Regions from separate parts of the Homo sapiens genome. Here region 1 is linked to region 2. Evidence: fine-mapped expression QTL. A gene starts in region 2. The other region holds a variant in brackets. All regions are shown on one strand. Distances are between the middles of the regions. Region 1 has its middle 56 kb from the start of TNIP3. Region 2 holds the start of TNIP3 (TNFAIP3 interacting protein 3).

What was found.
Region 1: its variant is fine-mapped to the expression of TNIP3 in whole blood (INTERVAL, PIP above 0.99).

Annotation. Positions count from the first base shown.
Region 1 is chr4:121,218,570-121,222,976 of GRCh38, forward strand. It overlaps a transcript of TNIP3 not described here. Among named protein-coding and RNA genes, the nearest start is that of TNIP3, 56 kb to the left of the region's middle. The variant A/T (reference allele first, on the strand shown) is at 2,292.
Region 2 is chr4:121,162,072-121,166,478 of GRCh38, forward strand. TNIP3 (TNFAIP3 interacting protein 3) reads right to left here and starts at 2,250. Exons shown (of 11, transcript NM_024873.6): 1 at 1,989-2,250. The coding sequence starts at 2,054.

The DNA.
Region 1 (4,407 bases), 56 kb after region 2:
CTTCCTTTCTGCCTCCCTCCCTTCCTTCCTCCTTCTCCCCGTCCCTCTTCTTCTCCCTCTCCCTCTCTCTGTCTCTCTTTCTTTTGAGACGATGTCTCACTATATTACCCAAGCTAGAGTTCAGTGGCTGTTCACAGGCACCATTACAGTGCACTATAGTTCTGAACTCTTGGGCTCAAGCAATTCCCCTCCCTCAGGATCCTGAGTAGCTGGGACTCCTGGGCTCAAGCAATTCTCCTCCCTCAGCCTCTTGAGTAGCTGGGACTACAGGTGTGCACTACTTTCCCTAGCTATAGCCACATAAAATTTCTGAGAACCAAAAGATTTACAATTAAAAACCACAGAAGTGGCCAGCCATGGTGGCTCACGCCTGTAATCCTAGAACTTTGGGAGGCCGAGGCAGGTGGATCACCTGAGGTCAGGAGTTCGAGACCAGCCTGACCAAAATGGAGAAATGGTGTCTCTACTAAAAATACAAAAATTAGCTGGGTGTGGTGGTGTGCACCTGTAATCCCAGCTACTCAGGAGGCTGAGGCAGGAGAATCACTTGAACCAAGGAGGCGGAGGTTGCAGTGAGCCGAGATCACACCATTGCTCTCCAGCCTGGGCAACAAGAATGAAACTCCATTACAAACAAACAAACAAACAAACAAACAAAAAACCCATAGAAGTAAGAGTATCCAACTGGCTGAGCATCCTCTGAAGCTAAAAGCAAACACATGTCTTTGTTTCCATCTTTTGATTACTTCTCCTTTTTCCTCCCTCCTCCTCCTTTTCCTCTTTTTTAAGGAATTCCTATACTGCTAAAGAAGCAGCTGTTGCTTTCTGTTTCACTTAGCCGAAAGATGTCCTCTGTTCTTGGATGCATTTCAGCACATCAGTGAAGATCATAAGCTGTTTGATTGTTTAAGCAGAAGTTTACACAATCCATAGTTCCAAAATAACCCAACTTTGAAGGATAAACTTACTTTTGGAAGTTAACCAAGTTTTATGAGCTTTTGGACATTTCTGGTGACAGCTTTTAATATACTTGGATTTCTAAAGTCAGATTCAAGGGCAGGGTGTTCGTATTACCAGTCATACTCAAAGTTTACTCACATAGGTTTTACAGACCTTGAAAATGTTATATAAAAAATTACCAACGAATTCTTATACTATTGTTTACATTTATGTTGCTCAAGTCTATGTTATACATTGAGAGGTGTCCAAATGTAATTCACATACAATCAAATGCATGAAAACTTAAGGTAGAAAGGACTAGAAGCTGACAAGGCATATTTATTTAAATAAAATGTGTTTCTTTCTGGGTCATACAATTTACAACACATAATACCTTCCTGGAAACTGTTTCATTTCACTATCTTTACTAAATTAACATTAAATGTTAACCAGGTTCAATACATTTAGGATAAAATGTCCTCATCAGGTACTAAACCATCATGAAAATTACTATCCTTGTATCCATATATAATAAATAATAAAGATTCTATAAAGTAATAGGCTGAAAACCATACATATGTGTACATTCACATGCTTACAGATATAAAAGTACTTATATTAATTTTTTAGAAATGACATTATACCATTTAAGAATACATGAAAAGCTTTCTTATTGATCACATAAGAGACCTACAGGTAGGCAGTCAGTTAATCAAAATATTAGTTAAAGCTGGGACTCATGAAGAATAATACATTAATACCATATTAATTTAATGTCACTGAAAATACATAGGTGAACATCATTGCTAGGCTCTGTTTTCTAAGGAGAGATCTATTAGTGGTTGTCCACATGTGTCTTCTGGCCCACAATAAATCCTTGGTGAATTCTAGTTTTGGTTTCTTTACAAGGGAGCAAAAATTTTAAGACATAAAGCAATCTGAAAACAGAATGCTTTTAGGTTTTTATGATAATTAACTACTTTTTTTTTGTATTTGCCCTCACCATCATCCAATTCAAATTTGGTAACTTAACCTTTACTAGATGTTTCCAAGATGCTAAAACTAGCTTGTACTGAAACAATGTTTTTTTTTAACCTTTTGGTACTCATGTATCATCGGCTTATATACATTTTATTTAAATATATAATGGCAAAAAAGTAAAATTGTCATAAATAGCGTGGGGGAATAAACAAAGCTGATCCTGGGTAAACGTACCACTTAACTTTTAGAGTCAGAAATAAGTGAATGTCCTTAGCTGTGAGCATTCAGCGTGCCTTAAGTGCCAGTCTGTGTGTTTTACTGAGCGAATGGACAGCAGGATTCGTTCCTGCTGTGATTTGGCTGAGTAGGGG[A/T]TGAAAAAGAGCAATACGTTCAGTCAAGAGTGGGAAAATGCCTGCAGAGTCAGGAAGCTGACATAAATTGGTGACAAGTGGTGGTAGGGGCTGTGGTGAGTAAGTGAAGACATATCCTCCCCAAAGGTATTAAAATTCTGTTTAAAAAAATCAATGAGAACAAATAAAACATAATGCTCTTTAAAAATTTTTGGTTTACTGTTAGCAATTCTCATGGCCTTTTGCAGTTTCCAAAGCTTGAGATATTTGTTGCCAATATGTGGATGATAATGGACAACATTTTGAGATCCTTGCTATTATTGGTAAGAAAGAAATGTAAAGAACTATAACATTTTTAGTATAAAACCTTGGTTATGTTTTTCTAATAATATCTTTAATATTCAGTCTAAATCACTCTTAATATATAAAATAGCCAGTTTGTATGTTCAAGAAGTTTTATCCTTAAAGTTCCCTATCAGTCATTTTATCTCCATAAATATTAAAAAAGAAAAAGGAATTCACTTAGCCTAGAAACAGGAACAGTAAAGCAGATCACGTGACTATAAAACTAACCTAAATTTACAAGCACAAAGCTAAAACAGCAATAAAAGATTTCAGATAATTTCTATGCAAAATGAGGCAAATGCTCAATGTTGTTAAGAATATGATAATGATATTCAAAAAAAGGATATGTTACACATTTTAATTCATTTATTTCCTCTAGCAAATAAGATTCCTATACCCAACAGGTACTTAAGGACCTTTGATTACAGTGTGGAAGAAATTGGAGGAGAGGAAAATTACACACCACTCTCATTTACAGTAATGGCTCAAGGGAAATTGAGAACAAGAAAGAGATTTTTGGCTGCACATCGTTTGGCTAAACCAAAAGAAAGAACTACCCAACAGAGCTGTAACTATTTTTTTTTCCACTTCATATTTCTGAGAAAGGTGTCAAATCAGGGGACTTTCATCACCTATTTCCTTCTAAGAAGTCTTTTTGTTTTATAGCAGTAAAGTTTTTTGCCACCACAGGTTCTCTACAGCTCAATCACATCAGAACACCTGCATTTCTTCTTCATGCAAAACTGACATTTGAGGACTGAATCTAAAAAAGTTCCTGAACCAGGAGTCAGGAGACTAAGATTCTGTCTGTCACCAGGGCTATCACTACATTTGCTTGTCCCTGAATGTCGATCACCAGCTCTAAAATGAGAACAGATTGTACATTATAGTAGCTAAGAGTGCTCCTAATACTTAAGTGTTATGAAAACTGGTCATCCTAGGATTTTTGCAATGTTGCTATATTGCTCTTGATGCATCTTAGAGGCTTAGTGAAATATTAGTGAATTTCTTCCCCTGCGAAGAGGACCTAGTTTTCCATAGAATGTTCCTTCATTCTGCAGAAAAATGAGCATATCCTTGTTCTGAGTCTTTATTCAGCTCTATTTGGGAATATTCCTGTATTGTGGATTTCTACTGATAAATTTCATCAAAGCACCCCAAATTACAAATTCGCTTTTTCAAACGTGTATTGGAAGGATGATTGGGTTTAGAGTCAAAAGATGTGTATTCAAATCTGTCTCTCACGTTTAACAGACTATATGTCTTTGGGCATATTATTTAAATACTCTGAGCCCCACTGTCCTTACCTACAAAGTAAGGATAACACTTCCCTTCTTCAAGGAAAAGTCCATAATGATTAAACAAGACACTGCATTTACAAGCAACTTTCACCTCAATTGCACTATAAGGTGACTTTTCTAGTGTTGCATGGCAGATAGTAAGCTCCAAATAAATGTGAGAGAATTTAAATTTTGTTTAATCTTCAAAACTCACTGGAAAGCCTGTAGAGAAAGCGATTTTTATGGGACATAAATGTTATTATACATGTTATTAGTTATTAATTGTTGGTTGTTCTGCTGAAAATCATGAAAATGTGGAGCTGAGGGTGTTTTTTGTGCGTTTTTTTTTTTTTTTTTTTGAGACGGAGTCTCGCTCTGTCACCCAGGCTAGAGTGCAGTGGCGCGATCTTGGCTCACTGCAAGCTCCGCCTCCCAGGTTCACGCTATTCTCCTGCCTCAGCCTCCCGAGTAGCTGGGACTACAGGCGCCCACCACCACGCCCGCCTAATTTT
Region 2 (4,407 bases):
TAGTTACTGTGGATCACTAAGTTGCTTAAAGCTATTTGTGAACCATTAAGAAATATTTTCAAAACATGTTGTTGGTCTTTGCCAGAAATGTGTACAGGAAATTGTTCTTTGCAATCATCATGGGATTTCAAGCACCTTTTTTCATCAGAAATTATTTATAAAACTGTATTTTCTATCTTTTCTCTGTTTGTTTATGTTTCAGCATTTTAGGGTTTGATGGTATTTTAAGTAAGCAGAGATGTTCTCGTTTCCTTAGCTTCTTCCTATTTAGACCTATGTTACAATTAAGACCACATTTAAAAAGAGACAGTCTTCTGTGGGTCAATAAATTCTGAATGATTATATTTGCTCTTGACCTCAAGAAGGTGTTCTGGCTGAGCACCAAGAGTGACACTGAAACCCAAGTGTCAAGTATGTTGGGGCCCGTAATTGGACCTTCTTCTTTTGGGGAAGACTTCCAAGAAACTGGACCCATTCTGGGTTAGAACAGACTAACTATTAAGCATCTTTGATCTGGAAAATGCTGTGAGCCAACCCTACTTAGTGTATCTTGAGGTCATCAGCAAAGTAGGGGCACAGTAAGACTGGATTTTAGAATGGTGGTTCCCACCACAAGAGCACATCAAAGTCACCGTTAAGCTTGCTAAACATAGAGCATCCTGAACAATGGATCAGAATTTCTAGAAGAGCAGCCAGGGCACCTCTATTTCTAATACATTTCCTAGGTAATTTTGATTCATACTAAAGTTCAATATATTCCCATTCTAGGGAATAAATTATGGGTCCTCAAAAATGTCTCCTCTCTGTTTGTGATGTAGACAAAAATCCGTGATTGGCAAACATTTGTATGTCCCTGCCTTTGGGAGCCCAGATGTGGAACAATGAGACAGTGTGCTTTTTGTTTGTTTCCCCATAAACAATTTTCTCTGGAAGAAAATTATAATACATTTCACCCTTGATTTTTCTTTAATAAATAAAAATTACTGAAAATCTAGATACCAAATCTGCAAGAGGCTCTATTTGTAACTGCACGAGTACTAGTTTTTGAAATTCATAAGTAATATTCAGTTATAGGTGGGGGAGGATAGGAGGGAGGAAAAATAGAAAACATAGTGACTAGGAATGGCATGTAAGTCACAAATGTATCACCAAAGCTTTCTCTGGAGATTAATCAACATTTTGTTATAGTTCATATGTCTCAGGTTTCTATAAAATAAAGCGAAATTAATCAAATACAAAGGTTTGGGGGACCTTTTCAATTTGTATTTACTTTGCTTTACAGTTGCTAATGAAGGCATCTGATTTGCAGTAACTACAAAGATTTTCAGTCATTGATTCTAGCAAGGGCTGCTTACGGAACAGTTATTCCCTATACATAATTTCCTATAATTATTCCCTATAAAGTAGAATTTCTGTTCAAAGCATCTGGGCACTTCTTTCTCTATGATAACATCCTTACCAATGTATATTCAAGGTCTGATGCTACTAAATTAAAAACTTAAATGAATAGAAGTTTCCATTTAGTTTCCCATTATACCTTGGTTATCTGTAAAAGAAAACTAGAAAATATTTGAATTCATTCATTCAATTAGCAGTAGTCTCTGTTGCTGAACAAAATCTATGGTACCAATTGTAAATATATAAAAATATTACTACAGATACTCTATTGTTACAATATGTTCTATTTCTACCTACACCAATATAGTATTCTTTTAAGATTTTTATAGAACAAAAATCAAGAACAAAATAAGGAACCCACAGAACTGGAAGGCTGAAAGGAATTTAAGCCCCGTGGGTTAAAAGCAATGTACTGGTTACTTAGATATTTTTTTCTATGTTACATAATTTTGGTTAAAAATATAGAGCAAATCTTAGCTAAAGAAAGCAAACTAGCCATTTCTGTTCTTATTAATAAGTGCACAATTAACCACTAGAAATGCCATCAATGCTAGATGTGATCAACTCATCTCCTAGAAATATGTTCTTACCTCTTTATGCTCCGTAGAACTTTCTGCGGCAATCATTCTAGATGTGCCCTGTACAAAATGTGCCATGGAAGCTGTTTTTCCTGGAGTCTTGGAAAGCAGAAAGAAAAACAGGGGAAAAGTCTCTTAAGGTATATTTTAGGGTGAGAGCAAGTATACAAAATTTAAAAAACACACATCACCGTTAACTCATAATAGAAAATAACAGCAATAGGTTTTCATTAAAAATGAACAGAAGTGACTGTGGATAGGAATTACACAGAATAAAGTTATAAGCACTGCAACTGGGATTTTAACTTTTCTTCTCTTCCAAATAGGGATTTCCCAGGATGTCTCAAATAGGCAGGCCGTGACTAAGACCTGGGGCAGATTAGCCTTGCTATAGTATGTAAATCGTCATTCTTCCTTTACTGGCAGTTTCTCCCACTGGAGGAGGAAGTTCTCCACCACAGAAAGCCTGGGCAATCCAAGTGTTTCCTCAGTAGCCTAACTGTTATAAATTCATTGTATTTCCCAGAGCAATTAGGTAACTGTTGACTTTTTGACAGCTCGGTTTCCCTAAAGGCGAGATTTTCTGGCAATACCTTCTAAATGTGAGTGTAGCTTGGTAGAACTTAATGAGTCATACATAATTCATAATACATAATAATATAAGTGCCACTAATTCTTATAGAAATAAAAGGGAAAATAATTCATTGTAAAGAAAATGGGCATTGTTTGCAAATCTAATCTTCTATATTGGCAGAAAGGTTAAACTTGTCTCAAGTTTAAGTCTGTCTTTTCTATAAATCAAGTCCAGATTGTCTCCATGACTCATTTGAAGTGAAATCTTCTCATGGAGAATCATTTTCACTTTAATTATTTGACTGTTATCATTTTAGGAGCCTTGAGGTAATGGAGCACTACTGGGTAGTACAGATAAAAGCGTGGAAATGGCAGATACTTGGAGCTGCATAAGTGAACTGCGATGGAACAGAAGACCTCATTTTGGACTTGGAACAAAAGGAAAGAGGCAAGGAATACAAAAAAGGAAAGAATGTGTAACTAAAAAGAGAAAAGAATTTATGGTCAATCATTTAACTTCATTAACCTGCCTACGAGATATTCACATATATATAGGATAAAGCCTAAAACTCCTAAAATTCAAAAGAGAGTGATTGAGTGTCCCACATTTGGCCCTCCCATTTCTCCTGAATATCTCCCCCTACTCTCCAACTCTCCCCTGTGCTCCAACCATCCTGACTGACCTCCCTTTCCTGAAATGAGTGAGATGGTTCTACGCCCCTGAGCTCTGTGCATGCTGTTCTTGCCACCTCAGATGTCTCCTCTCTGGGCCCTCCATCCAACCTTATGACGGGGAAAACCTAAGTCAATGCCTCTCTTTCCTTCTGATCTTCTCTTGACTTCCTCTAATCAGCTAAGGAGAGCACTTCATCATGCATTACGATTACATATTTCCATGTTCTTGTGTTAATCTCTGTGTCCACGCACCCAGGCACTGAGCTGTCTGGCACACAGCAGGCATTCAACACATTTTGCTACATGAATAAATGAATGAATATCTATATAATGATTTACAAAATCGATGAACTTTTTGCTAGTTTGTGTGTGTGTGTGTGTGTGTGTGTGTGTGTGTTTACTTTCTTCTGGTTTCTTGTTATGTTTGGGTCTACGCTTGAGTGAAAGGGAGTGACGCTGCTTTAAGGCAAAATCCAAAAATACAGGTAGGAATCAAATTGTTCATTCAGGGTTCTGAAAGTAAAAAGTTATAACTCACATAAGATCTGACTTTAGGGTACAGAAGCAGCGATTTCCTGAACTGACACTTTATCAACACTAAAATCTGCTCATCAGAAAAGAAAAAGAAAACTCTATTGTAAGAATATTTTTCTTCTGAAACATACCATGCACATACACACTCCATAGTTTTATATAGTGTAAGGTTCTCTTCAGCTTTAACTTTGTATTTGTATAGGGATGTGGTAACATTGACCTAGAAAAGTGGGTGGGAAGAACATTTTCTTGCCAGGAAATACCATCCTTGGCATTGTGCCTCTTGAGTCTCCCCTGTAAAATATCCTGATGCACATACATTGTTAGGTGTGATGGCTTCTATTAAATGGAAATTCTATACCTTTGCTTCTTTCTTTACAATTCCTTTGCCTCTTCTGTTATGCAGATAAACAACAAACAGATTTTCTATTAGCTCAAGAGAGCCATATGGTTATTTATGAATAAGTAATAACTCTTCTGAAGAGCCACAAGTTTGGTTTCAGAAAAATGAGACTTTCAATATGCCATCCCTAAGAATTAATTGGGTCTTTTCTGTTACATATGCTCTGTTCACTTCACCTCCATCCCTCTCACATTGTGCCACATATTTTAAGAGTCTGGCTTTTAGTCAAGCTTTGTTTCATGAGAA